7 separate regions of the Homo sapiens genome follow, and all the other regions are linked to region 1. Evidence: fine-mapped expression QTL. A gene starts in region 1. Each other region holds a variant in brackets. All regions are shown on one strand. Distances are between the middles of the regions. Region 1 holds the start of RGS12 (regulator of G protein signaling 12). Region 2 overlaps RGS12 (regulator of G protein signaling 12). Region 3 overlaps RGS12 (regulator of G protein signaling 12). Region 4 overlaps RGS12 (regulator of G protein signaling 12). Region 5 overlaps RGS12 (regulator of G protein signaling 12). Region 6 overlaps RGS12 (regulator of G protein signaling 12). Region 7 overlaps RGS12 (regulator of G protein signaling 12).

What was found. PIP is the estimated chance that this variant, and not a neighbour inherited with it, causes the effect.
Region 2: its variant is the best candidate, but not a certain one, in a credible set for the expression of RGS12 in pancreas (GTEx, PIP 0.88).
Region 3: its variant is the best candidate, but not a certain one, in a credible set for the expression of RGS12 in CD4 T cells (CEDAR, PIP 0.88).
Region 4: its variant is the best candidate, but not a certain one, in a credible set for the expression of RGS12 in prefrontal cortex (CommonMind, PIP 0.64).
Region 5: its variant is the best candidate, but not a certain one, in a credible set for the expression of RGS12 in unexposed skin (GTEx, PIP 0.67).
Region 6: its variant is the best candidate, but not a certain one, in a credible set for the expression of RGS12 in cerebral cortex (GTEx, PIP 0.79).
Region 7: its variant is the best candidate, but not a certain one, in a credible set for the expression of RGS12 in whole blood (INTERVAL, PIP 0.52).

Annotation. Positions count from the first base shown.
Region 1 is chr4:3,291,147-3,295,206 of GRCh38, reverse strand. It overlaps RGS12 (regulator of G protein signaling 12), which reads right to left and starts at 2,186. Exons shown (of 18, transcript NM_001394154.1): 1 at 2,108-2,186. RefSeq lists silencers at 1-27, 2,051-2,100, 2,111-2,590, 2,771-2,880 and an enhancer at 812-1,397.
Region 2 is chr4:3,381,820-3,385,879 of GRCh38, reverse strand. All of the region lies in intron 3 of RGS12 (regulator of G protein signaling 12), which reads right to left. Among named protein-coding and RNA genes, the nearest start is that of HGFAC, 58 kb to the left of the region's middle. RefSeq lists an enhancer at 217-296. The variant T/A (reference allele first, on the strand shown) is at 2,431.
Region 3 is chr4:3,338,549-3,342,608 of GRCh38, reverse strand. All of the region lies in intron 2 of RGS12 (regulator of G protein signaling 12), which reads right to left. Among named protein-coding and RNA genes, the nearest start is that of RGS12, 48 kb to the right of the region's middle. The variant T/GGCCTGCACCT (reference allele first, on the strand shown) is at 1,847.
Region 4 is chr4:3,420,181-3,424,240 of GRCh38, reverse strand. RGS12 (regulator of G protein signaling 12) reads right to left here. Exons shown (of 18, transcript NM_001394154.1): 10 at 3,523-3,599; 11 at 1,671-1,865; 12 at 1,263-1,336; 13 at 600-726. Among named protein-coding and RNA genes, the nearest start is that of HGFAC, 20 kb to the left of the region's middle. RefSeq lists enhancers at 1-55, 3,322-3,823. The variant G/A (reference allele first, on the strand shown) is at 2,526.
Region 5 is chr4:3,388,636-3,392,695 of GRCh38, reverse strand. All of the region lies in intron 4 of RGS12 (regulator of G protein signaling 12), which reads right to left. Among named protein-coding and RNA genes, the nearest start is that of HGFAC, 51 kb to the left of the region's middle. RefSeq lists an enhancer at 3,627-3,776. The variant C/G (reference allele first, on the strand shown) is at 2,108.
Region 6 is chr4:3,429,802-3,433,861 of GRCh38, reverse strand. It overlaps RGS12 (regulator of G protein signaling 12), which reads right to left. Exons shown (of 18, transcript NM_001394154.1): 17 at 2,907-3,455. Among named protein-coding and RNA genes, the nearest start is that of HGFAC, 10 kb to the left of the region's middle. RefSeq lists enhancers at 1-292, 293-794. The variant A/T (reference allele first, on the strand shown) is at 1,807.
Region 7 is chr4:3,314,802-3,318,861 of GRCh38, reverse strand. RGS12 (regulator of G protein signaling 12) reads right to left here. Exons shown (of 18, transcript NM_001394154.1): 2 at 811-2,792. The coding sequence starts at 2,691. Among named protein-coding and RNA genes, the nearest start is that of RGS12, 24 kb to the right of the region's middle. RefSeq lists an enhancer at 951-1,505. The variant T/C (reference allele first, on the strand shown) is at 2,176.

The sequences.
Region 1 (4,060 bases):
TCCCACAGCAGCAGCCAGGCCGGCTGGGTCACCAGCTGTCACCTCTGGGCCCTCACCACCTCCAGGACCTCACTGAGTCCCAGCTCCCAGCGCCACAGGTCTCCTCGGCCTGGCCACCCCTTCTTCCCCGAGACCCTCATCCTAAACAGGGCAGAAAGGGAGCCAGCCCTTGACCCTGGATTCCCTCCTCTTTGCAGTGCCTGTCGAGTGCCTCCCTCCCACCTCCTGACCCTCCCCAGGACATGCCCTCAGGCCGCGCCACCCCTGCCCTCTCCTGAGCACTCCACAGGTCAGTACTGTACCTCCAGTCCACGTGAGGGGCCTTTCCTCCGCCCTTGTCTTTGTCAACCTCCCTGAGACCTCCGGTCACCACTGCCCTGTCGCTCCTCCCTCTGCTCTGCCAGTCACAGAGGCATCCGCATCATTGCAGTTACCAGGGCTAGAACTGTAAGCCTGTCTGATGGCAGGTTCCAGCCTCAGGAGGTCTCAGAGATAAGGCTGGACTTGCAGTTTTAAGAAAAAGACCCAGACAGGGGTGCACCAACTTGTGCAGGCTCAGCCACCCCACTGCCCTTGCCTGAGCCCCTGCCCTCAGCCAACATGGCCTCCCCCACCTGCAGAGCATCCAGCTGAGGCACCACGCAGGGCCCGGGCACCGGATACCCATCATCTCAAGTCCCCAAAAGCACTGGCCACGATGGACCTTTTTATATCGCTTTTTCAGGGGAAGAAACTTCGCACTGTGACAATTACTTTCTAAAGTGAAATATAAACTGGTTCTCCCTTACTCAGAATTGCTCTGCCCTCCCCACGTCGCCTTCTCTAGGGGAAGGCCAGCAGGACTCCACCCCAGCAGCCCTTGCTGCCCAAAGCCGCCTCTCTGCCCTCCTTGGTAGTCTCCTTGCTGTGAATGGTGGGGCTGCTGCCTTGCCTGGGAAGGCCCCCCAGCGCCCCTTCTGTGCAGGCCTTGCCGGCCATCCTGCACGTCCCTGTGGCCTCAGAAGGGCCCTGCACAGGACGGCATGGACCACGCTGAGGACTTCAGACAAAGACACTCTTAGCCCTTGCAGCAGCTCCAAAGACAGGTCCAATGAGGAAACTCAGGCACAGAGAAGGTGGTCACCTGCCCAGGGACACATTCCCAGCAAGTGACCAAGCAGGTGAGAGGCCAGGTGGTCCTCTCTGTCCACACTCCACGGCTCTGGGCCCCCTCTGTGTTCACCCTCCACTGTCTACACTCCATGGCTCTGGGCCCCTTCTCTGTCTGCACGGCTATGAGACTCTGTCTACACTCCACAGCTATGGGTCCCCTCTCTGTCTACACTAGATGGCTCTGGGCCCTCTCTCTGTCTACACTCCACGGCTCTGGGCCCCCTCTCGGTCTACACTCCACGGCTCTGGGCCCCCTCTCTGTCCACACTCCACAGCTCTGGGCCCCCTCTCTGTCTACACTCCACTGTTTATACTCCATGGCTCTGGGCGCCCTTTCTGTCTACACTCCACAGCTCTGGGTCCCCTCTCTGTCCCCATTCCACAGCTTTGGGCCCCTCTCTGTCTACACCGCACGGCTCTGGGACCCCTCTGTCTACACTGCACAATCGCGGCACCGCGGCTGAGGCGACCCCAGGTCGCTGCAGTGCGTCTGGAGTTCGGGTCTCGGAAGGCAGCTTCTGCCCTAACAAAGCGGCCGCTCGTGGAGTCCGACGAGGGAACCCTCCCAGCGCTCCCGGGCGCATCTCGCCCGCGGGACCCCCTGCCCGGCGCCGCCCCCGCGGGTCCCGCCAAGGGCCCGGGCGGGCCTCACAGCGCGGGGCCCCAGGAGGCCGCGCACCCGCCCGGCCGGAGGCCCCACAGGCCCGCGCCCCGCGCCGCCCGCCCCCGCCCCCGCCCCGCCCCGCCCCGCGCCGGGCCCGGGACCAGGAGCCTGAGTCAGGCCGGCGAACAAAAGGCAGGGCGGGCGGGCGGCGACCCCGAGGGGACGGGCGCCGCGCAGGGCTGGCCGGGATCGGCCGGGAGGCGGAGGGCGCGGGCGCGCGCCCCGGAGACGAAAGAAAGAGCGGAGGCGGCGCGCCCTGCCCCCGCCCCGGCCCCGGCCCCGCACACCTACCGGGCCGCGCCGCTCGCTCCCGCTCCGGGCGCTTCGGCCCGCGCCACCGCCCGCGCGCGCAACGGTCGCCTCGGCAGCCACCGCCCCCCGGGGTCGAGGCGAGGGCGGGGCCGAGGCCGGAGGAGGGGCGGGGACGGAGAGGGGCGGGGCGAACCTGGTGAGGCGGGGCCAAGGGGGTGGGGTTGGGGCGGGGCGATGCGGGGGCGGGGCACGGGGCGGGGCGAGGGCCTTCGCGTCGGGACAGCGTGGTAACGGGACTGCCAGGGAAGCAGGGATGAGAAGAAGCGAGGGACGGGGCCTCCACGGCCGGGGGCGGGACTTCCGTTGGGGGCGCGGCGGCGCTGGTGCGCACGGTGTGTACCCGCACTGGCCCGGCCCTGGTGCTGGGAGCGACTGCGTTCCCGCAAGCTGGTTTTCTCTGCCTCCGCTGGCCCGGGACACCCTGCGAAGGGCAGGTCGGTGTGGCCGGGAGGAGCCGCCCCTGCCTGGGCTGTCTCTGTCCTTCGCCGTCGGTGTCCGAGGAAGTCCCGCTCCCGTTGGGTCTCTGTGCCCGGGAAACCTGGCTGTGGGGAGTCAGGCCCCGGCGCCCTGGCTTTTCGGCTGGGCAGATGCCCGGAGCTGGCGGCAGCTTCGGGGGCGGCGTGAGTTCCCGCGGCGAAGCCACGGGGACAGCCAGGAAAGGCCGTTCCCTCCGGGCCCCGGGACGCCCGCGAAGGCGGCGCGGTGACTGCGGCGTCCAGCGGGTCTGCCCCTCCCGGAGCGCGGGCAGCAGCGAGGGCGGGACCGGAGGCACCGCTGGCACGAGAGGAGGAGCTGCCCGGCCCCGGCCTGCGCCTCTGGCCCTGTCCCAGCCGCCGCCTTCACCCTTTAGGCCGGAGTTCCTTCCTCGCCCTCTTCGTGTCTTCCTTCCCCGGCGCTGGGTCTCCCTGCCCCTTCCTTCCTGCCTTCCCCTCATTCTCTCCCGCCGCGTTTTTCCCTCGAGACGCATCCGTCGCTGCTGTTCACGCTCCAGCCCTGCCGCCCGCCCAGGGACTCGGCCCCTCTCGGGTTTGCTTCTTTCCTGTCACCTGCCTTGATGGGCTCAAAACGCTTCCCCTCCGTCCCCGCCACCGCCCCATGGTTTCTTGGCAGCTCTCCATCATCTAGTCTTGTGTGATTAGTTTGGATCCCAGGAGGAAACCAATGGCATTCTCAGTGGGACAATTAATTAAGAGTCCAGCAGGGTTCCCGCTGGCAGAGGCGCGGTCCGGGAGCCGGGAAGCCACAGGGCGGTGCTGAATTGGGACAGGTAACAGCAGGGAGGGAACTGTTTTCACCTGCAGGGCTGAAGGAGCGCGGCCAGAGCGGTTACAGGAAGCCAGACAAAGAGAGAGAGATACTTAACAGGAGCTGCGACCTATGGCCAAGGGACACAGCCAGCCCTTGATGACCCAGCAGAGAGAGCCAGGGAAGAGGCCAGGCGCGGTGACTCGTGCCAGTAATCCCAGCACTTTGAGAGGCTGAGGCGGACAGATCGCCGGAGCTCAGGAGTTCGAGACCACCCTGGGCAAGATGGCAAAACCCCATCTCTACTAAAATACAAAAAATTAGCCAAGCGTGGTGGCACGCGCCTATAGTCGAAGCTAGTTGGGAGGCAGAGTCAGGAGAATCACTTGAGCCCCGGAGGCGGAGGTTGCTGTGAGCCGAGATTGTGCCACTGCACTCCAGCCTAGGTGACAGAGTGAAACTCCATCTCAAAAAAAAAAAAAAAAGAGCCAGGAAAGAAACTGCCCCCACCCTGGCCCCCCCAAAACTGTGGACCTTCTTGGCTCCTGCCTATGCGCAGATGGTGGAATCTTCCAGAGCAGCGCCAAGCCAGAAGGAAGCAGGCCGCAGAGCTCAGCCTCCTGAGGCTCCAGGGCAGGGACAAGTGGCCCTGAGTGAGAGATGGGGAAACACCACCTGCAGGTCTCT
Region 2 (4,060 bases), 91 kb before region 1:
CACTCAGGGTGGCAGCAGAGGAGTCAAGCCCAGAGCCAAGCCCCGGATCTGGTGCCCGCCCACCCAAGCAGTGCAAGAGCGGCCACCAGCAGGAGGGTTGGGGAGACGCCTCCGAGGAAGGGGCTTGGAACAGTGGAAGGGGCTGGAGGAGAGCAGGGTGGCTGGCTTAAAGGCACCAGGGACAAGAACAGACAAGTCAAGTTATGAAGGAGGGGTGGCAGGCGGTACCGGAAGGCCAGCGTGACCAGGAGGAGGCCGAGAACTCGAGACAGTCAGCTGAGCCAGGAGGAAGCCGAAAAGAACAGGAAGCCACGGCGGCCCCAACGGGAGCCCTGATCAGGGCGACCTGGCACTGCACTGGCAGGAAGGGCCCAGGGCGCAGAGCCGTCAGGCAGGTACGGGACAAGCCCAGGACTCAGCCCAGGAAGGAGAGGAATCAGAAGAGGCTGGCTCACCAGGGGACACGGATGCCAGGAAGTGAGAGGGGGTGAGCAGAATGGAGCTCCAGAGGCTGGACAAACCCGTGTTTGATCTGATCCCTGGGCAGGCACTCTGCTGCTATCTAGGCAGGAACCCCTTCCTGCGGGGACCTCCCAGACGGCCTGGCAAGGACCCACTTCTGTCCTCCTCTCTGCCAAGGCGAGGGCTGCCAGGGCCAGGGGAGCGAACGAGAAGGTGCTGCCGTGATGGGCAACCTGGTACCTCCTGGCCACTCCCGAGAAGTGGAGGTCACTGGGGCTTTAAGACCCCCCCACGCCAAAGTCCAAACAAGTGAGGCCCAGAGGAACCTCCCAAGGGGGAGGGGACCAAGGAAAAGGAGCCAGGGCTTCCAGCTGCTGCCCCTACCGTGTGGCCCTCCGGGACACACACTGTATGGGTTTTAACACGAGCGGTACACCCACTGGAATTCTGCACATCCTGTCTGACCACCCCAACCTCGGCACAGGGCCCCAGCCCTGCCTCCCAGCCTGCCGGCAAGGGCAACCATGCCCCGACGCAGCCTGGCCATCCGGGGTCCACTGCCAGCCCTGGCCCTGCGACCTACACCAGCTATGCGCATCCTCCTCCCCCGCAGAGTCTGTCCTCTGGCACCCAAAGTAAGCCCCCTGACAGGCACTGTGTGAGACCACCTGGGGCCAGCTTCGGAGGGTCCTGCCCCCCAACCCACTTCCCAGTAGTGAAAACACACAGCAGCCTGCATCCATCTCTTCACTGTCCTCTCATTGGCCAGGAAGGGGAAAGAGCACACACCCCTGAAGCCACCATGTGGCCCTTGGCCCTCAGCCGCAGGAACTGGTTTTTATCAGAGGCTCTGGGGCAGCCACGTCACAGATGCTGACATACACATTTTGGAAGGCTGTCATTCCTTCCATGCCCGCAATAAATCATCCACAATCATGTCGCAATCTAAATAATATCACAGGAAGGCTGGGCGCAGTGGCTCACACCTGTAATCCCAGCACTTTGGGAAGCCGAGGTGAGTGGATCACCTGAGGTCAGGAGTTCGAGACCAGCCTGGTCAACATGAAGAGACCTCGTCTCTACTAAAATATAAAAATTAGCCGAGCGTGGAAGCAGATGCCTATAATCCCAGCTACTCGGGAGGCTGAGGCAGGAGAATCGCTTGAACCCGGGAGGTAGAGGTTGCAATGAGCCGAGATCGTGCCACTACACTCCAGCCTGGGTGAGAGAGTGAGACTCCGTCTTAAAATAAATAAATAATATCACAGGCAATCTATACCTTTGAGATTATGAGAAGAAAATCCACAAGGCCATACACAAAATCAGAAATGCTGTCAATAAGATCTGAAAGATAAATCATAAAATGTAAACTTCATAAATATGAAGGAGGTGTTTCACTTCATGTCACGCTCATGAGTAAAATTCAATTCTCAGAATCTGGCAGGCCGAACAAAGTGCTCTAGAAAACCTCTATACACGCAGCATTTACATCCCCCAAATTAGCTGAAACTTGAGAACCAGGAGAGAGGAGTGTCCCAGAGGCCAAACAGACTGAAGGAGAAGGTGGCCAGGGAGTGTGTGATGCCCACTGAGAGGCCAAAGAATATGGGCATGGGCCATCGCTGCTCCTGTGATGGGCACAGGCTGCGGGCACGTAGGGCTAGACCAGAGCCTCTGGGAGGCTCTAAGACAGTGCACGGATGCAGGTAAAGTGTAGAGCTGTTTTAAAAGTAAACTTTACCTTTTCAAACAGCTTTAAATTTATGGAAAAAATTATTTTAAAGACAGTAGAGAGATACACATACTTTTTTTTTTTGACAGTCTCGCTCTGTCACCAGGATAGAGTACAGTGGCATAATGATGGCTCATTGCAGCCTCAATCCTCCTGGGTTTGAGCAATCCTCCCATGTCAGCCTCCTAAGTAGCTGGGATCCAGGAGTTCACCAACATGCTCAGCTACTTTGTGTA[T/A]TTTTTGTAGAGATGGGGTCTCATTCTGTTGCCCAGGCTGGTCTTGAATTCCTGGCCTCAAGCAATCCTCCCACCTTGACCTCTCAAAGTGCTAGGATTACAGGTGTGAGCCTCCATGCCCCACCCAAACATGCTTTTTAATATACCGCTACTCCAAAAAGAGTAAAGGGAAATCCCTGAAAAGAGACGAGGAAGGAACAGAGGGGGAAGCAGTTAGAAAATGCCAATGCCACTAGGGCCGGGTAGCCCGCAGTGAGCCTCAGCCACAGCACGGTTGTCCCCTCAACCTGAGATCCTCCATCCAGCTCAGCCATGGCCCTCGGGGAGTAGTGTTGTCCTAGGTGCAACACTCCTGGAAGCCACATATATTAATGCAAATCCTTCCAGAAAGAAAACAGCCCAACAGGGGCCCTCAGGAGTTCCAGATAGTGAGCCCACTCGAATATGAGTTCACTATGAAAAACCCAAGGAGAAGCCCAGCATGAGTGGGTATCAGCAGAGACAACAATGAGCAGAGTCTCAGACATGGGAACAATCTAATGCAGAGCGTTGAGTAACCATCTGTGAAGCTGTCGAGAAACAAAGGCTGAAGCAGAACACGAGCACAGTGCAGGTCGGAAACAGAACCATATGGAATGTCCGACAGTGAAAATACAGTAAGTGAAGTTAAAGATTCAATAGGAAGGCTAAACAGAGATTAGGCAGTTGAAGAGAGGATTTGGGAACTGGAAGATGGAACTGAAAACAATTACACTGACCACAGTACAGAGGGATGGGCAGAGAAAATAAGGAGGAGAGAGAGAGAGCAGCAGAGAACTGAGGTGGTCTCCTCAGGATCTGAGATTCAAAAACGACTGTGGAGAACTCCTGAAGACCGTCACCTACAAATGGTGCTGTGAGCAGGACTAATGCAAGCCAGCAAGACTTTTCAGTGGATCCCATGATGTTGATCTCCCAAGGTGGTCACAGGAATCAAGACACCCACCACAGTGGCTCAGCACAGCATCCAGTCGGCACTCAGCACAGATATACTAATCATCAGTGTCGCTTCCAGGCCACGGCTGGGCTTGTCTGTGCTCAGGAGTGGAGCTGAGGAGGAGGCAGAGGGACTGAGGGCTTGTCTCAGCATCAGGAAGGGCAGGGAAGGAGAGGGCACCTTGCGGTTCCTTTCTTCATTTCAAAAAGGGACATTATATCTCTGACAAGAACTTTTAGAAGTTATGTCATCAATGCAAGTGGAAAAAATAATGCAAAATGATATCATGGTATAATCACAAATATGTAAAATTTTCTTTAAAATGTAAGATCTGTGAAAATACACTCTTAAATACTGAAAAGACGTAACTAGCCACAAAGGAACAATATCCAAAGCTAACAGCAGTCAACCGCCCTTGAACGGTGACGTTACGACTATTTTTTGACAAATAAAACTTTGTGGTGTACAAAGTGGTGCTGGGTGCTGGCAGGGAAGCCTCTGGCCTTCACATACAGGTGGCTGGACCCCAGTTTACACAGTGCACAGCTCTCTCACTCCCAGGTATATTCATTAAACAAAAGCAGTAAGATTCATGGTAATTATAAATGATCTCTTTGCAAATTAAGTAATCTTGTCAGGAAAAGTCATGACCAA
Region 3 (4,060 bases), 47 kb before region 1:
GCAAGGGTGCTTGGAAAGTGGACACAGTACACTGAGAGTAAAGATGACTAGTATGATGATTAGTAAAGATGAAGGCAGGTTTTCAGCAAAGTCGTGCTTTTTCATAATTTTGTAAGCACTTTAGGAAATGAAAGAATCCCTAAGCATTCAGCTGGTGTCTGAAGACCCAACCAACTCCGGCGCAGGAAATAACTGGCTATTAAAACATCCTGTCTCTCCTCCTCCAGGAAATGACCAGAATTAATTCAATTCGACAAACATCTATGTTGTGCCCATCATTATGCTAGACACTTCCCCAGATGAGAAGCTGGCTCCAGCAAATCAGTCGCCACCTCTTAAAAACAAAAAGCATCACAGTTGGGAGCTCTGCTTTCCTGAGGACTTGGAATCCTAAGTGACCAATTTCAGGCTTGAAGGAAGGGAACCTGTTTATGTCAAGATTTTGAGGCTCTGCAGCTACTTTTGTCTCTCCACCTGCATAAGAGTCTTGTAGAAAACCTTGCCACAATTCCTTGAGAGTCCCTAGGGAAACCTACAGCATGCCTGCACCTTTCTGGAAGCAGATGGAGCAGGCCACCCTCCCGCCTCTCCCCTCTCCTTGACCACCACGCTGACACACCCCATCATGTCCTCAGACCCATTCCCGCCTGGGTCTCCCTGCACTGCGCTGCTCCTCCTCAACTGAAAAGTCCTTCCTACCCCACCCATTGTCACGGCCCAGCCCCACACCACCCCACACCCCGGGGCCTCTGCAGCCCCTACCCTCCGCCCACACCTCCATCCTCCACCCTCCCTTCTGTCCACACCCCCATCTCTCCACCCTCCCTCCCCCCACACCATCTCTCCACCCTTGTCCCCTCCCCACACCCTCATCTCTCCACCCTCCCCTCCGCCCACACCCCCATCTCTCCACCCTCCCTCCCCACACCCCCATCTCCCCTCCCCCCACACCCCCATCTCTCCACCCTCCCTCCCCCCACACCATCTCTCCACCCTTGTCCCCTCCCCACACCCTCATCTCTCCACCCTCCCCTCCGCCCACACCCCCATCTCTCCACCCTCCCTCCCCCCACACCCCCATCTCTCCACCCTTGTCCCCTCCCCGCCATACCCCCATCTCTCCACCCTCCCTCCCCCCGCACCCCCATCTCTACACCCTTGTCCCCTCCCCACATACCCCCATCTCTCCACCCTCCCCTCCGCCCACACCATCTCTCCACCCTCCCTCCCCCCGTACCCCCATCTCTCCACCCTTGTCCCCTCCTCCCCCATACCCCCATCTCTCCACCCTCCCTCCCCCCATACCCCATCTCTCTACCCTTGTCCCCTCCCCCCATACCCCCATCTCTCCACCCTTGTCCCCTCCCCACCGCACACACCCCCATCTCTCGACCCTTGTCCCTGCCCACACCCCCATCTCTCCACCCTCCCCTCCGCCCACAGCCCCTAAAGACGGGCAGAGGGGTGTCACTATCCTCTTGGCAGGTGAGAGGTCCAGCACCCAGGGGCTGTGGCTGCCGGGAACACGAGAGGATGCTCGGGGAGGGACGCCACCACTGGGCCCCCACCAGGCCGAGAGAAGGCTCTAAGGCTGTCATCCTGAAAGTGGCGATGCCCAGCAGAGGGCAGCCGGCAGGCAGAGGCCTAGAAGCACAGCGGCCAGGTGCCAGATGGACCGGCCAACACAGGTGTCAAGCACACTCCAAGCTGAGGCGCCACAGTTGCCAGCTCACTCCAAGGCACTAGTGGCACAACTGCTTGTTTTCAAACTAAGGAGCAGGCCCCCGTGCACGCCGTGCCTCCGAGGCTGGAGAACGGACTGCACTGGCCTGCACCGGCCTGCACC[T/GGCCTGCACCT]GCCTGCACCTGCCTGCTGCTCCCATGGGGCTCAGCTCAGGCTCCCGCCAGCTCCTGCCTTCTGTAAATCAGCCTGTAAGACACTCTTTGGAGGGAACCTGTGGTCCCATTAGGACACAGATGTGGCTTCCTGGTGTCTCTGCTCCTGATGGCAGGCACCTTGAGTGTCCTGCCAGCGTGCTCTTCTGTGGTGACTGATAAATTGCCACCCCCGCTCCCTCCTGCTTAGGCTGGCGTCCGTGTCCACGCTCTGGGTCCACACCCCGGGCGCCCGCCTCATGGCCTTTGTGCATGTTCTTCCCTCCCCTGACCCCTCAACCCAAACAACCCCTCTTGTAAGAGACCTTTAAGCCCCCGTCTAAGTTAAGACTCCCCAGCGTCCTCTCTCCCAGTCTTTGGGTCTTTTCCTTCCCACCAGTGACACCGCTGTCAGCCATGAGGAATCTCCCCCAGGGGACTGCCATGGGACGACAGCAGCAGCGCCCTTCGCTTCGTCTGATGCTGTCTGAAAACTTGCTGCCCAGCACAGCGCCCGGCTCCTGGCAGGTGTGCGGCCCCGGCAGAGGGGAGGCCTGAGAAGGCGCTGGGCAGTGCTCATGAGACACACGACACGGAGGCCACAACACGGGGGACTGACTGCCCAACAATGGGGAGCGCAGGGCACCTGTACGGCATGCAGACGTGTGTTGCGGCAACAGCAATAACGGGAAATGTTCAGTCCACTGCTAAAGCAATGAGTGACTTTGTTCTCATTATAGATTTGCTATTCTGTATTTTCTGCTCTTGAGAAGGGTGGGGAATGAACCCATGGCTTTGTGAGATTAAGGCTGTCAGAATCAAAATGAATCACTTGTGTTAAAAACCCTAACAAACAGAGCTGGGGAGGGCCATGAAGGGAGGGCTCACACATTAGTGTGCCTGCGAAAAACAAATCCATCACAAAGATGTGCAAATCACAGCCATGCACACAGGCCATCACAGCCTCACTCAAAACACACTGTGAGGACATCTGCCCAGCAACCGCCCGCCCACCTCCAGCCTGGTATCATCCTTGGTGCTGATCCTTGTGGCAAGGATAATTATCTCAAAACAATCATGTGATCCTCATTTTTCCTTTAAAAGCCTTTGTCTTCTTTGGCCTCCCCAGCTATGCACTGTAGACCATGGCAAGTATCTGCCTACTCCAATGCCCTGCTCCCAGATAAACATCATTTCTTTCAGAGAGCCTCTCTCTGTTATTTAGATGGACAGTGATAAGAGAGTTTAATTTTTTTTTTCTTTTGAGACAGGATCTCACTCTGTCGCCCAGGCCGGAGGGAGAGGTATGATCATGGCTCACAGCAGCCGCGACCTCCCAGGCTCAAGTGATCCTCCCACCTCAGCCTCCTGAGTAGCTGGGACCACAGGCATGTGCCAACAGGCCCGGCTAATGTTTGTATTTTTTGTAGAGACTGGGTCTTGCTATGTTGCCCAGGCTGAGCTGAAACTCCTGGGCTCAAGCAATCACTTACCTCAGCATCCCAAAGTGCTGAGATTACAGGTGTGAGCCACCACACCTGGCAGCCCTGACCACGCCCCAGGTGAGCGGCCCTTCCACAGTCAGCCTTGCAACTTGTTCCCAGCACAGGCAAAAGAAAGGATGTCTGACGCCTGCCCACACGTGGATGCACTGTGCACTTTGGAGATGTAAAGGAGAAAGGAAAAGTCTAACAAGCAGACAGAAAACAATTCTTGCAAAGCACTAAATCAACTCATGGAACGAGGGCCAGTAACAGATGTGACAACTTCCACAGCAGGGAGAGACCAGCGTTTACTCGTGTTTCTCAAATTGACAAAGTTTTGTAAATTAATAAATTCAGATCATCACCGCCGATTTAGCACCCCTGCTGGTGTGACATAATCTTGACTCTTCCCCAAAGAGTACTAAACAGGGAAAACAACAATAAAAATGGCCTAAAAGACCACTTGGTTCAAACTCCAGCTTTTAAGTTGAGAAGACTCCTCACGACTGTCTGAGAAGACAGGTGGCCCCCAGGGCACCATCTCCACCTCCCAGCCTTCGGCCACCACACCCAGCACTCAAGGGCACTGAGTGGAGCAGACACCGCCCGCCCGCCAACCACAGAGGCCGGTCACCCTGGCCCCCAGGCATCCAGGATGCAGTGAGCCAGCCTGAGCCAGCCGGCTTCAGGGAGAACCAAGGGCCTCAGGCCA
Region 4 (4,060 bases), 130 kb before region 1:
TGCCCGGAACCCCCACGCTCCAGAGCACCCTCAGCGGGGCCCAGCTCTCGCCATCTCGCGTGGCCTGCCCAGCACCTGCGGTCACCACCCCACGCGGTGTTTTCTTTCTTAACCCCATTCACATCATAATGGCGCAGCCTGGAAATGCCAGCTGAGTTCTTCCATCTACAAAGTGCAGGTGAGAATCAGGACATCTCCATGTGACCGTGCACTGGGGGCATGAGCACAATGCCCGGGCCCAGCAGGTGCAGTGGGGGCAGGGCCATCCGCACTCTCTTATCTGATCACATTGGCCAACAGCGGAGGATAGTCCAGGGTTGGTTGCTTTGTTTCTCATTTTGGCCTCCCTGGAGCAAAACCACCTCTCAAATATCAATTCTTTTTGGAATGACCAAGGTACAAATAAACCATGATGGCTCCCACTGCACAGAACGAGAACTGGGGATGGCAGAGGCTGTCTCCTCTCCTCCAAGGGGGACAACCAGATCAGGGGAAGACACCGCTTCTTGGTGTGCCCTCTTCAGTGAACAACACAGAGGCTGCCAAAGGGAACAGACAGTGCCTGCGGTGACGACGCCCGGGCCCCGTGCAACACTCACCAGCCTCACCAGCAGGCCACTGAGGTCCAGGCCGTATCTGGCCACCACGGGCCGCAGCACCTCCGTGACGGGCTTGGTGGGCTTGGCCTTGAGTCCCACTGACCGGTTAATCGGAACAAGATCCAGCCTGGTGGGGGATGAAAAAATTCACTACCAACTCATGTCAGCCCTCATTAGGAGATCAGTCTCACGAGCAGAACTACAGCACAGCCCCAGGCCGCCCTCAAGGCCTCGGTGTGCCCCCCAGTTCAGCCCCAGCTGATCAGAACGTGCCTTCCTCCACGTGGGAAAAGTCAGGCCAAGCAAGGGCTATGGTCTCCTCCTCCAGGGATAGCAGTGTCCTGCACAGCAGCCTGGCTACCTGTGGGGCATCCACCCTACAGAGAGCACTCCTGCCCCTCCCTCTCGGCATCTTAGGGGGCTGGGCTCACCAGGCCAGGGCAGTCCCTGTTCACGGGACAGGGAGGAGAGGGCGCCTCTCACCCCCGGGCTTGTAGGGGGGCTGCCTCGTGTGGGCCTCCACCCTCCCCCCGCCCCGACACCCCATCGTAGCCCAGCATGGAGCATCCACAGGCCGCCCGCTAAGCGCAGAGACCAGCAGGTGGTGGGCACACGGGGTTGGCTCTGGGAGCCTCAGGTGAATGACAGCGATCTTCCTCTTACCGAAACAAGGTGCGCTTTTCTAGGCGCAGGTCCCTTGACTCCAAGATGCTACTGTCTTGGTGCAGCACCAGAGGCTGAGGAACAGAGAGACCAGAATCAACGTGGGCACAGCAGGCAGCCCCCCAAACGCAGACCCACGTGCCCCAGGCACACAGCTGTGCAGAGCAGAAGAGCAGCTTCAAAAACAGCCATCCAAAGAAAGCGATCACCCTTTCCACACCAACCCAGCACCCACGTGCAAAGTGCTCCCAGCAGATAGCTCAGTTCAGATAATCCGGCCTCCGCCCCAGGCGCTGTTGAAATGAGGAGCGCAGGAGGGGGCAGCCTGAGGACTCTGACAAAGCTGGGGGCCAGGGAGCGGGGAGGTCATGGCCTGAGGGCAGCACGAGGGTCAGGCGGGCCCAGTACCTTGTCCCCGCCCACCAGGAAGAGGTCCGCGGCCGCCCCGTTGATGCCATGCCGCTCACAGAGTCCGGACAGGATGTCTTTGATGGAGAAGCCCGCCTTGACAGCCACCACGCAGGATGTCCCATCCGGGAGATGAATGCAGCAGTGCTTGGTGGCCTTGTCCTTCTCGGGTGCCAAAGTCCTGCAGGCCTCCGACTGGGGAGCAGCGAGACAAGCAGCCGTGAGGGAACCAGCGTCACAGGGGTGCGGGGCACCTCCCAGAGCAGCCCAGCTGGCCCAGGCCGCACGTGCTGGGGAGGCTGGCGCCCTGCCACGGTCCCACCTGCAGCTCCCCAGGTGCACACATCTCAGGCTCAGTCCACACTGCCTGAGGTGCTGGGTTTTGTGAATTAACACGAGAGAGCGGTCATCATTCTCTCAGCTCTGGGCCTCAAGGGCCATCGTGCTCAGAAGGCACATCTGGGCTTCTCCACCCAGAAGCAGGGCTGTCCTGCGGGGCCCACTGAAGCTGCCCTGTGAGGACCACTCCCTCCCAGGGCTCTGGGTTCCAGCACCCTGTCCTCTCTATACACAGCTCCCCATGCACATCGTTCCAATGGAAACGTCGCCTGGACTGTGACTTCGTCGGCACTGCCTTCCGGTAGTCTGAGGTCTCTTTTCCCTGAGCATTATTTCAGGAAACTAGTTTGTACAGTGGTAGGCTGGCTGCACAAGTGGTTCCCAACCATCCCCTTCCCTGTATCTGTGCCCCTCATAATGCGGCTCTGTGGCTCCTCCCATGAAGAGGTGGAGTCAGCCCCAGCCCAGACCTGGGTGGGCAGAAGGAGCGGCTCCAAGCCTGGGCCTCCAGAGGCC[G/A]TCCTTACTCTGCTCACTGTCAGGGTCCCTGAGCCGGCTGTGGGACGGGGTGAACTGGCCTCCGCTGAGTGAGGCGAACGAAGGGTCCTGTCAGTGCTCCTTCCCCAGCCAAGGGCCAGCCATGCAACTGAGGGCCTCTGGGACCAGCCAGCTGGCTCACGTGCCAGGTAACCAGAAACACACGGCAAGGCCGGCCAGAATGGGCAGAACCACCCAGGCGACCCAGACACCCAGCACAACAGTAATTGTTTCCAGCCTCTGAGTTTGGGGGTGCGGAGGTATTAGGCAACAAGAGCTAACTGATACCTGGTAAATCCTTACAGCTTTCAATGTTATTTGGAACAACTGAAGAAGAAATTATATTCTACATTCATTCCTGCCTGAAAATTTCAAATGACCAGGATGCTGGCAACCAGTGAGGTTTTCCAAAATTCCTATCAAACAACATCTAACAAGCTCACGAGTCCTGCCTGCGCCTGCTCATCTCCCTCATCTGCTGGAAACTGGGGCCAGGACGAGCACCAGCCAAGCAGTGAGCAGGTGTGAGAGGGTGTGGGTGAGACAGGCGGCCCGCAGGCAGAGGGGTAAATCCTGCAGTGTGGGAGTGGGTGGGATGCTCACGCGCTGAGACAGGGAGCGCCTGATTTCGACACCTTCTGTTGATTCTTAGTGGGAGTTCACAAAAACTAAATTACAACAAAAAGACTTAAGAAATAAATCCAAAGATACTTTGAGTTCCCTCCCTCGTATAACTAATAGTTTTTCGTGCCCTCTCAGGAGCCCTAGGCTGGGGGACCATGAGGCCGGGGCCTGATGGGGCACTGGGCCACCCTGCACTTTGCCACTGTGCCTGGGCCGGCACCCGAGCCTTGTCCCCCAGCTTTACAAAGTGAACGCTGAGTTTTGTAAACACAGGTTTCCATGGGAGAGAGGTGTCATCAGTCAGCTGGTGGGGACACCCCTGAGGCCTGTGGGACGAGGGGAGACAGTGACTCACCAGGTCCAGGCTCCCCGCAGAGGACACAGAGCCCTGCGACTCTCGGCGACACAGGCCTCCATTGGCATGCAGGGCGTCTTGACAGGGGAAACACAGTGACTCACGTCAATCAGAACCCTGTTTATTCGGTCACATCTCCCAACCCTCTGCCCCCTTTAGGCTGAGCAGACAGACGCCAGGAAGCCCCCCCCACCCATCCCCCACCAGGCATCACTTTGCCGTCTCTGGTGGAGACGAGTCACATGTGTCTTCCTAACCCTGGAAGCCAGTCAGGGACCAACAAGGCTCTACCCACCATGCAGCAGAGATGCTACTCTCTGCCCTGTCTACTGCCACATCCTGGCTCCAAAACATGCTTGGCTCATGGCAGGTGCCCAACAAATCACATCAGTACGTGCAGTTACACAGCACAGACCCAGGTGCATGTCCCGGTAAGGGCCTTTCCTCCATTCCATCTGGAGCTTTCATCCCCAAATGTAGTTTCTGGGCCTAACTGGAAACCCCCAACTGTGGCAACAGCCAGCGCTCTCAGCCGGAT
Region 5 (4,060 bases), 97 kb before region 1:
GGTTTTAAAGCAAAGCGTGAAGAGAATCAGTAGAAAGAAATGAAAAAAATAGAAGGAACTGCTAAAGATGAAAACACAGTCTCTGAGATGACAGGCTGATCGGCAGGAATTCCCTCACAGGAGGGAATGAGCTGTATATCTGACACTAAAATGACAGATCAGTGAACTGCAGGATAGAGCAAGAGAAACAATGAAATGGCAAGCATGCAGGCGACACAGAAGCCTGAACATGAAACGGCCTCCATGAGCTGAAGGGAAAACCAGGTGGCCTAACATGCTTGCATAATTAGAGTCTCAAAAGTGGGAAACAATGAAAAAAATACCTGAACCCCAACAAATCCCAAACACAACAGACACAGAAAAACCAACCTGAGACTCATCATAATCAAATTGCTGAAAACCGACAATAAGGAGAAAGTCTTAAAAGCTTTCTGTTAGGTGGTATGCCCAGAGGGGATCTCTTCCCACAGTCTATCTAGCCTGGGGGTAGGGGAAGGATCTTCCTCAACTGCATAAAACTGCACAGGTCCTGTCCCTGAGAAAAGCCCTTGAGCTCTCCCCACACTCAGGATCTACTTCTAGACCTTTTCCTTAAATCATTTTGGCCAATCTGATTTTCAATCCAATCTACATAATGCTTTCTTTCTGCAAACTTCATACATACTCTCCTGAGAGCAAATCTATTAACATTTTCAGACCATTTTGAAAGTCCTTAGGTTAAAAGTTCCAGAAATTTAAAATATTAATTATTTTAGTAAACTATTAAGATATACAGAAAAGTGCACAGATTATGAGCATATGGCTTGGTGGAGTTTTGCAGGTGAACATCCTCCCAGACCGAGAAGCTGAGCAGGAGGAGCTTCCCTGGAGCACCCAGGCAGCCCTCTCTGACGCCCCCAAACACCCCAGGCAGCCCTCTCTGGTGAGGCCCCCAAACACCCCAGGCAGCCCTCTCTGACGAGGCCCCCAAACACGCCAGGCAGCCCTCTCTGACATGGCCTCCAGACCACCAAACAGGGCGGACACTGCTTCTCACGCCTAGGGTTGCATGAGAGGAGTTCTTCGTTTGTTTTATCTTTTCCCCAAGAATCTAACTAAGAAACTCCCTTGGAGTGGGAAGGGGTGGCGCCTGCTTCCAAGTGTGGCCTCTGGGGAGGGGATGCAGCCGCAGGGGCACCAAGGGCTTCTGTGGTCACCCCAGCCCTGAGTCAATTCTCAGGCACAGGCCCCCTGGCTAGCACACGTTAACTCTGGAAGATAGGTATGCAGTTAGTGGTTTTATTACCTTTGAATTTGTTTGCTTGAAAAAATAATTTCACAATATTAAAAACTAGTAATAAAAACTCTCCAAATATCTTGTAGAATTGGAAAGAAACAAGTACATCGGAAGGCATCCTGGCAGAAATCAAGTCTCCACACTTCCAAAACTGAAAATCTCCAGTCTGACTCCTGTTTACAAATACTAATACGGTATTCCACACCCTACAAATACACTGTGTGATTCTGAGCATCATTTTGAAGTCCAAAAGCAAACCAAAAGAATGTGACATATTAAATCAAGTAAAGGGTTCTGGTTAAAACAACCACTCCCACAATAGCGCATTACAAATTAACATTCTGTTTCTGCTATTTAGCAAACATTTTTGGAAAATGTGCAATTAGGCTGCACTGTTTTTCTGATGAGGAAAATGTAAATTTATCAACTAATTCTATGTAAGTACTGATGGTTCTACTCTCAAGCTTTTCCCTTTCTCTTTCAAAATTGTATAGAATACAAATTTTGGCATTTGCCAAAAATATCAACAATTATACTTTATATTTTAAAGAGGAATGCAGTTTAAAGTCCCCCAAGTTAATCCGGCAATTACGGTAACCCTCCCCCATCAGGCAGCCGTTTGTGACAGCTCCCCAGGCCTCAGTGCCTGTTCGCTAACAAGGACCGGCGAGATGAAGACACAAGGCTAGGAGAGAGAAAGTGACTTGCCCCAAGAGATCGGCCTGTCAGCTGTGGAGCTGCAGGTGGAGCCCGAATCTTCCGCCATGGCCAGGTCTGAGCTCCAAAGGCCCGCGTGTTGGGTGAAGGCACTGGAAGAGCCTGGCAGGCGCG[C/G]AGAGCAGCCCAGGAGGAGGCGGCGGCAGTGGGTCCACCCCGCAACACCAGTCACACAGGAGTTTCTGCTTCTGTGCTTGTGTGTGCTTTTTGAGAAGGTTTCACGACTAAAAGGAAAATCACTGAAAGCCACTGTCCCCGCCCAAGCCTCGCCCTGACGCTCTGGCTGATGTCTGCTGAACACCCGATCATTCACTCAACAGACAGCTCTCGTGCCAGCCGCTGTGCCGGGTGCCGGGACAACTCTGACCTGCCACGTGGAGGTCACACCAGCTGGGGGGACAAAAGCACCAACACAGATGAATAATTAAAATGATGGAAGCTGCCCCTAGCACGGGCAGGAAATTGACAGTGGCCATCGCTCAGGATGGGGGCAGGTGGTCAGGAAGGGAAGAGGGAAACCGCATGTGCCTGAGGCACCATTGGAGACCAGGGTGGGACGCAGGATGGTTGGGGGAACAGGGGCTCTGAGCTGGTGGAGGGGTCCAGTGCAGGGGCTGGGCAGATCACTGCTGCTGCTGTGGGGGCAACCACCAGCGTTCAGGAGAAGGGAGCGGGAGGATGGCTGCAGAGACAGGGCCAAGACTGAGGTCTGCATGGAGGACGAGTAGGGGGGCAGCTGAGTGGACAGAGTGGGGTCAGGGCAGAGCTGAGGCACAAGGCATGAGGAGGACATGGGGATGGAGGACTGCGACTAGTACGTGTCGGGGGTCCCCAGGGTGAGGCTGCGAGAACGGAGTGTTTGAGAAGCAGCTGGAGCACCGGGGTCATGTATGTGGGGTGTCATGTGGACCTGCCACCGTCCCCCAAAGCCAGAGCCGCACAGTTCCCCGGCTTTCCTGCTGGCACAGACGCCGTACGCAGGAGGAGGTGGGCGCTCTGGGAGCTCCCCGATAGTCTCCACACCCCGACTTCAGAAGGTGAGGTGGTCACAGCGGGAACATCCACCTGTGGAGGCTGCAGTGGGTGAGGGGATTCTGGCAGGCCTCTTGGCACAGAGCTTGACCAACGGAGGAAGCCACAAGAACGGGCTTCTGTGCGGCCGCGGCTCCAGCTCTGTGCAGAGCCAGACCAGGAGAGGTGAGAGGTTCCTTTTTCCAGGAGCAACCGGGCATCTTCCTTTTCTCATTTCTTCACAACGCCCCATCTCCCTCCAGCTCGACCTCACACTTCTGTCTGAATAACTTCCCACAAGGCAGACCATTCCCCTGCTAAGCCTCTCTATAATGCTAGAATGTGCTTCCTTCTCTCCAGCTGGAATCTGCTCCCTGCCCCCACCCACAGCCCTGCCGTGCCCCCCAGAGACCAGCTGTAACCCTTTTTCCCGAGGGCACTCTTTGGCTACAAACGGGTGGCCATTATCAGCCCCTTTCTTCTGAAAAAGTGAAAAAACACACTCCAACTTGACAAAGATTGCCAAAATAGCATAGTCCAACTTCCTTAAAACCGAGCCACAAAACTAAAACTCTCCAGCGAGAGCCTAAGCTATAAAAGCACGATACGCGTCACAGAATGAAACCGTGGCATGAACACGAACTCTCTCACTGGCACGGCTCGTTGAACACAAAATATTTCTAAGTGAGTGATCTATTAATCACCAAAACTAGACAGGATGACCAGGCAGAGACAGCCCAGCTGAGCAGATTGCTCCCCAAGCCAACTCCTCAGTCCCTCCTTGGAACTCGGGGAGCATTTTTCCCATAAAAACACTGGGGTGCTGGAGTTCCCAGGCCCACCTCAGTGCACTGAGTCTCCCACTGACCACAGCCTATAAAAAGATCTCTGTGTGGAAACACAGCCAGAGTTTCCCTGGGACCACCCCCCCACCCCGACCCCGCCCAGGCTCCTGTCACTGCCGTGGAGGGCAGGGTGTGGGGGAGGGGGCCTCTTTCTGCCTGAGGCACCAGAAGGGGCAGCAGGGGCTGCAGGCGCTGGAGGGTCCAGGGCTGGAGC
Region 6 (4,060 bases), 140 kb before region 1:
CCTCCCGGGACCAGACATGCATGGGGGCACCGGCCAGCCTGCATGGTGCATGGTCTCGGTCTCGGTGCGTGGTGCTGGGGCTAGACAGACGGGGTGGAGTGCCGCGTGGCGTGTGGCGCTGGGGCTAGAAGCATGGGGCGGTGCGGTGCATGACGCTGAGGCTAGAAGGGCGTGGTGGAGCACCACGTGGCGCAGGGGCTGGAACAGGGTGGCATGGCACGTGGTGCTGGGGCTAGGATGGGGTGGTGTGGCATGTGGCACTGGGGCTAGGACAGGGTGGCATGGCACGTGGTGCTGGGGCTAGGATGGGGTGGTGTGGCATGTGGCATTGGGGCTAGGACAGGGTGGCATGGCACGTGGTGCTGGGGCTAGGATGGGGTGGTGTGGCATGTGGCACTGGGGCTAGGACAGGGTGGCACAGTGCATGGCACTGAGGCTGGAAGGGCAAAGTGGTGTGGCACAGCTCTGTGGAGACTCCCCCTACCTCAAGGCTGTTGCTGGCAGCCCCCACGCGTAGCCGGCATGCTGCCCACCATGGCAATGGGGAGGGCGGGAGCCCGTGGGCTTGGCTACACCTCCTGTTGTGTTTCTCACCCCGGACGCTGGGTCCAGGGCGGCTGCCACATTGTGAGGAAGCATCCCACAGCAACTGTCAACGTCGGAGAGCGTGACCCGGGATGACCCCCAAGCTCCTAAACCCTGAAAACGGACAGGTCAGCACTCAGTCCAGGCTCGCCCCGGCCCACAGATGTGAAAGAGGTTCCATCAGGCCACCACGGCATTCACAGCCTGTTTCCTTTGCCGCCATGGGCAGGTGAACTCTCCAATACAGAGAATCCCATTAGAGTGGGGGTTCCAGAAGCAAGCTGCACAGAGCAGTTTCTGTCCCAACGCCCCCCAGCAGGCTTGAGCCAACATCACAGGAAGACTGGGCAGGTCCTCAGCAGTTGTCCTGTGTCGCCACGGACAGGCACGTGGAGGACACACACCTACGACCTATGGCCAAAGCCACTCCCACCTCCTTCTCCCACTCACTGGGTCTCCTCCTAGGAGACAGCCCAAGAGCCAAGGATCCAGGGTACCCACCTGCCCAGGGGCTGAGGAGCCAGCGGGGCGGGGAACCAGTTCTGGCCAGTGGCAGTCGGGGCAGCCACCAGAGCGCAGGGGGACCTGCTCCTCCCAAGGCCGGTACCACCCACCCTCCTGCCACAAACAAGTCAGGGATGTCAGCCGGGGCGCTCAGCTGGGCCTGCGCTGTAAACCACCTCTGTGCTAATGGCCCTTGGCAGGCAGGAGAACTGACCCCCCACGTGGGTCTGTCTGGCCCTCCCAGGCAGCCTGACACACGCCACACCTGTGCGCAGAGCCAGCCACAGCCCCAGGGCTGCAGGGCCGGGGTGTGGGTGCGGGACTGCAGCCCGAAGGCCAGCAGGCCAGCTCATCTCAGCACCCGCCACCGGGCCACCAGCTCTTCTGCTGTCCCGCCGCACAGCTGTGCTGCTGGGAGCACACCAGGTGCTCAAGAGTTTTGTTCAGTGGATGGTATATTTTTAAAAGCCAGTAGATTACGGTAAATCCACTTAATCTCCTAAAAATGTGTGATATTTCCCCTAGATTAAAATACTTTTATTATTTTCTAAAGTGGAAACAAAGTTTCAAATGAGAAAGAAAAGTTGTAAGCCAGTCCAGTGATGATGTCCAGAATTTATTACTCCTGGAAGAACAGACTCAAAACGCAGGTGAGAGCCACACAGGTGTCCACCAAGACGGATGGAGGGGGACTCAGGCCAGGGGTGGAGGCTGCAG[A/T]GTGGCACCGGTGGGCATGCCAGGCACCTCAGGCTTTCTCATCCAGGCGTGTCCTGGCTGTGAAAGGGACCAGGTAGCCCCTCCCATGCCACACGTGGCCTCCAAAGGCCCAGATATGTACAGATCTACAGACGTGCACTCCCTGGTCCCCCGGCGAGGTCCAGGCTACAGGTCTGACAAGACCAAACCTCACGGCAGGCCTCTCACTGCTGTCAGCATCCTGGACCAGGGCACAGGACGGAGAGGCGCTCCCATCGCCCCCAGCAGCAAACCACAGCAGAGGTGTCCACGCACCCCTGAGCACACTCCATGACGCGCACCCTGAGCGGCTCCTCTCTCCAGGGGATGGCCACGCAGGCCACGGCCCTCGGACCCCTGGAAACACCTTTCCCTACCGGCTGCTGGGAGCCTCGCCTCAGTTTCTGGTATTTGTGGCTCACGGAAACATCCCTGCTGCCAGGCCATCCTGTTCACCTTCACACTCACTGAATCCCCTGCTTCCTTTGAGAAATGCCCGTGACACCCGCGGTCAGAGAGCGCTGCTGACGTCACCTCCACTCCCGAGCACCCACACCACCTGCTACGGGGGCCGCCGGTGGGTCCGAGCTGCACTCTCAAGGCTCTTCCGAGGACGGGCCTGTGTCTGGGAGCCCTCTCCTGCTATGAACACAGCGGGCTTCACTTCCTCACTCAAGACAAATGCTATTGTTTTCCAGTCTTGAGACAGAAACACTAAAAACGATCGCTGTCCAGATTTGGAAAGGAATGCCTCCATTTTCGGAAACCCCCAGGCCTCACCCAGGGTGTTCCCAGACCTCGCTGCAGGCACTGCCACGTATCATTCCTGCAAGAGCCTCTCAGGACACCAGGATGCCTGCCCAGAGCGCCTCGGGGGGACCATCCTGACAGACACTGGCCTGGGGCCACACGAGCCCCTCCTTTCCAAGAGGGCCAAGGAAGCCCCCAACCAGCAGGTGAGGAGGGGGTCACGGAGACCACCAGCAAACAGTGGCAGCCGGGGGCCCACTGTCCTTTCTGACTGGAAGCTGAGCAGACCACGCTTACGGGGCCAAGGTGGAGGGATCAGAACCTGGAGGTACCTGGTCTGGAAGGTCCTGGCACTTCCTGGGGGGTGGAGGGCGGCGGCAGCAAGGTGCTGTTGGGGCTGCTGATGTCCCCCTCCCCCATCAGGGTCAGCTCGGCCACGTGCTCATCCTCCACCGTCTGGATGCCCCCGGCCTCCACTTCCTGAGACTGCCTCTTCCAGATCTGGGCGGTGCCCTCCTGCGCGAGGGAGACGGGGGACTGGGGAGTGCAGAAGGGCCCGCTGGGAGACTTCTGCCCGGGGGGGGTCGTCCCAGGAGGTCCAGGGGGGCTGGAGGCTGAGCCCGGGCTGGTGGACGGGCTGTCGCTGCTCTCCTGGACTGGCTCCCACTGCTCGCCAGGCTGGGAGGCGCTCTCCCGGCCGTTGCCTGTGGCGCTTCTCTTGCTAAAGCCCTTGGCCACAGCAGCTGGAGTGGGGAGGGTGAGTTCTGTGGAACCAGGAGGTAAACGGAGGAACTCTGGCAACACCAGGTCTTCCTTCCTTAGCAGCCCACGTTGGTCATCTGCTCTGTTGCTCTGAGCTTTGGAAATAAGCTCAAAAAACTCTATTGGAAGAAAACCCAGAGTGACCGTGTTTTAGAGAGTTTCACATTAATGACTGTCACCGCAGAACATTCTAGAAAGCTCTCATCCTGGGCTGTCCTAACACCCTATCAGCTGTGGGTCAACAAGAGCCCTTTTCCGTCCACACTATCTTCCCACAGACAGCGGAAGGGACAGCCCTGGGGCTTCTAGCATACTCTGTCTTCAGGAGTCTGAAAAAGCTGTGTACTCCCTAAAAACCACGCTGTGTGAGGTCCAGACTTGAACAAACGAGACGCTTGACTCAACACGGTTACGCGCTGATGCCGTCTGAGTAGGAAACTGTGGGACTCTCTGGCCTGGGCTTTCAATTTAACACTTGGGGCCCTCTGAGGACTGGCCCCCTCCTCCGGTTGGTCAGCATCTGAAGCACCCGCCCGGGTCCCAGCTGCAGCTGCAGTCCTCAAAGTCGGGAGCAGAATGAACCCGAGGAGGGGTGGTAGAGGAAGGCCCTGAGACGGGTGGTCTGGGAAGGGGCACCCTCAAATCCACGCCTGCCTCTCGGGGTCACTGCCTCTGGGCAGAGGGTGGTCCTCCCAGGCCTAGGGCAGAGGGGGGCAACACGTGC
Region 7 (4,060 bases), 24 kb before region 1:
GCACAGCCCCACACGGCAGCGCCGCCTCTGGCTGGAGGAAGTCCTTCCAGAGGGTTCCCTGCACCCAACCGCACAGGCACAGCCCCGCACACTCCCACACTGGCAGCACCGCCTCCTGCTGGACAAAGTCCCTTCCAGAGGGTTCCCAGCTTTGCTCATTTACTCTTTCCTGCTCCAAACTTAGCTCCTAAAGGCAGGGCCCCCAAAGGGATGCTGATGGGTCCAGGTCTTCAAGGCAGCACTACACACCTTGAGGTACCCCTCAGTGAGCAGGCGGCGTGGGGCTCCCCAGGCCCACTGCGGAGTCCAGCTGGTGTTTTACACAACAGGATATTCCCCATGGAGGAAACAGCACGAGGAACCAGCTTTCAGTGCTTCAAGAATATTCTCGCCTCAAGAGGGGTGTGGGACACTGGGATGAAGATTCTGGGGTCAGACCTAAAATGGGCTTCAAGGAGCCACAGGGACAGAGCTAGGGAGGAGCAGGAAGGGGAGGAAGGGCCTTATCCTGAGCTCCAAGACAACAACTTCCCTCTCGCCACCACCAGTCCTGCCCAGATGTCCTGCCCAGGACCAGCCATCAGAGCCAGAACCAGAACCAAGGACTCGAACAGGGCAGGGGGCAAGAGGTCCCAGCAAGACACAGTCCGCAGCCCACAGGCAACGCAGACACCCTGTGATGGCCACAGAGGCCACAGGGCCAGCAGGAGGAAGCCAGGACTGTGCAAGCTGGTGACTGGGAGTCACCTCCCCGTGACTGCTAAGTGAGGAGGCCGGGCCTCCGCGCTGAGTGGCTCCTGGCAGGCTTACCTTTTTATCTTCCTTAGTCTTTCGAACATTTCGATGGGGACCAAAAATGCTTTGCATTCCAAAGGCCTTCCTGGACCACTCCCTCTTCGGGGCATTCAGCGGGGGCTGCGCGAAGCTGCCCTCCACCCTGTAGCGGTCTGCGGGGATCTTGCTCATAGGAGGGGGCAGTGTGCCGCAGTTGATGCTGGACCAGCCATCGGTGGAATCTGTGTAAGAGTCCTGGTCGCTGGTGTGTCCGCACTGCCACTCCCGGAGCACGTGGACCGGGAGCCAGCGCTGGTTGAAACCACAGCCAGCACCCACGGTGCCCCTCTTGGAAGGGGGGACTGAGCTCCTCAAGGAAGCTGGGGGCACCTCCACAGGAGAGGCTGGCCCTAGGTGCTTGTTTAGGTCCCAGAACCTGTCAGTCTGATGAGCGGCCTCAAATGGGGGGCTCCCTTCGGGGTCCGGACAGAAGGGCCCAGTCCAGGGAGCACCCCAGGGCTGGGCACCCCTCCCACCCACACCGTCCCACGCGCTGCCTCCGGGGCCGTGTCTGCTCGAGCTCCCACCCAGGTCCACCACAAGGACCCGGTTGCTCTTCTCCTCCTGGTGGAAGTTCCCAATGCCGCTGTCACTGTTGCTGCTGGTGCTGTTGTTCTGGTGGGCATCGGCGTCCCCGTCCAGAAAGGCGCGGGCCCGCATGCCCTCAATCAGCTCACCCATGTCTCGGTACAGGACAGAGATGAACTGCAGGACGGGGAGGGAGGACGCCGGGAATTCCAGACAGCCATTGGTGTCTGGGTCGGCCGTGCACTCAAACCCAAACCGCCGAGCAATGCCTTGGTGGATCTTGTGATTAAACAAGTCTGGGTCCACCATGAACACGTGGCAGGAAGTCCGCAGGGCGCCCTCCTCCTCCTGGGCCAGGCTCCCGTCGTCATTCGTCTGCATGGTAACCAACCCGAAAAATCGCCGGTCGTCCGGGCACACGGCGCTGAAGGCCAGCTTCTCGGCCGGGTACTCGGCCACGACTCCAGCCTTGTCAGTGCTCAGCTGCACACAGTCGTGCATGATCTTCATGGTCACCAGCGAGTGGATTTTCTGCTCTGCCCGCAGGCGCCGCATGCAGCCGCGGATGGCTTGCAAGCTGTCGGACTCCAGGTTGGAGCTCGTGGAAGGAAGCTCAATGGAGCCTAAGTAGCCCACGATCATCGCCACGTTTAAAATACTTGCATCCAATGCAAAATCGTCATGACTTTCTAGTCCAATGCTGAAAACCGAATCATCATGAATAACTTTTGATATTTCCTCCTTAGAAAGCATGTTGGGATTTGGATTATTTATACTTTCATGTCCAACATCAAATCGAGTTGCGGCCGACTC[T/C]GAAAGGGATCTTTGTTTCAATTTCAAGGGCTCTGAATTGCTCGCACAAAGGCTCGGGTTTTCAAAAATCATATTGAAAATTCCACCAGACTGCATTTCCTCCACGACTCGCTCTGCTCTGTTTATACCTAGTGCTTTAGAATCCAGCTTGGGCTTCAGCCAGCCTTTTCCTTCATAGAGTCCCCCTTCTTCATCACTGGAACAGGATTCGAAGCGGCCGACGCCTTCAGCAATCACCATGTGAAGGACACCAGAGCACTTCCCAATTAATTTCACTACATCTTCATGAGATGCTTTTTTCACGTTGATTTCATTGACAGCAAGTATCTGGTCTCCAGCTCGGAGGCCCACGAAATCCGCAGGGCTCCCTCTCATGACGCAGCTGAGCACACAGGGTGCCTGTCCCGAAAGCGTGAATCCGTAGCCGGCCCTCCCCCGGGCAACCTCCACACTCCGCACCCTTGGGGGCGACGGCCCAGGCAATGGGCGTTTGGAGGCCTCCCCAGCTCTAAACATTCTGATGAGCTTCCAAGACCAAGAGCACGTCTCATTGTTCCCTTGGAGCCATATTTCAAGGAATGCTTGATGCTACCATGTTTGCTTCTTCAAACAGTGCCCTAAGAAAGAAAAACGAACAGCTCATTATTAAAGAGCCCATCTTTCTCCACCACTCACTGGTATTAGCTAAACACAAAAAGATAATTCATAATAAAAACCACCACAGAAAGAGCCTCTAAGTGTCTATAGATAATAAATCTTCAAGTCAGGCTAAGAAACTTCCTTTCGGAGTAGAAAATGTCTCCCACAACTGCTACCTTGTTACCACACAAGTTCCTGCCAGGCCCACCTGCCACGGGTGTGAGGATGCAGGACTGCTTCCCAGCACTGCTTCCACACCCTGTTTGGATGGAAAGAGCCCCTTGCTACTCAAAGTGTGGTCCGTGGACTGGCAGCCCGTCTGAAAGGCAGACTCTCGGGCTCCACACAGAAGAAACACACCCAAACCCACGTTTCACAGGATGGCAGAGTCCAAGCGTGAGAAGCAAGGCCTGCTACAGGCTTCAGGTTCAAAGGCACCTGCAGAACACTGAGTCTAACCCCTTAGTTGATCATAAATCCCCTGACATAGAGTTTTCCCTCAGGAGAGGGGTCACCTAATATTCCATGACCCTCCCACATTAATTTATTTTGAATATACTGTGTGGGGGAAAACGTATTAGCCTGAAACAACCTCGATCAATACTGCAGAGGCCACTCAACAGGCTAGATAAAAACCACCACCTAAAAAAGCAGAAATGTCATATTAACTCAATTCTTCCAGGGGGTATAAAAGTATTGGTTGTCATTGAGAACAAACTTGTCAGTGGTCCGCGGATCACCCCCAGGCCAGTGATTCCCTAGGATTCCCAGGACTTGGCACAAAGGTGCTCTCACAGCTGAGATTCATTACAGCGAAAGGATTCCACACAAAATCAGCAAGGGCAGAGGTCCATGGGGCGATGTCCCAAAGAAACCAGGCTTGAGCTTCCAGAATCCTCTCCCAGCGGGGTCACGCAGGACGCACTTAACTCCCTACACAGTGAGCCGTGACAACGCATGTGCAGTGTCGTCACCAGGGAAGCCCACTAGAGACTCGGTGCCAGGGTTTTTACTGGGGGCTGGGCACATGGGCACCCTCTGCCTGCTTCGTGCCCAGACTCTGGACTCCCAGAAGAAAGGAAGGTTCTCAGCACAAACCTTGTTCCCCACACAAGCAGCTAAGCACAGGGAGCCCCTCTTCATTGAGGGTGGTGGGCACCGTCCTGACACCAGCGGGGGGCCAGCCTTGCACACAGGCCTCTCAGGATGGTCTCGGGCCTGCTGTGTAGTCTCTTCTGCAAGACTC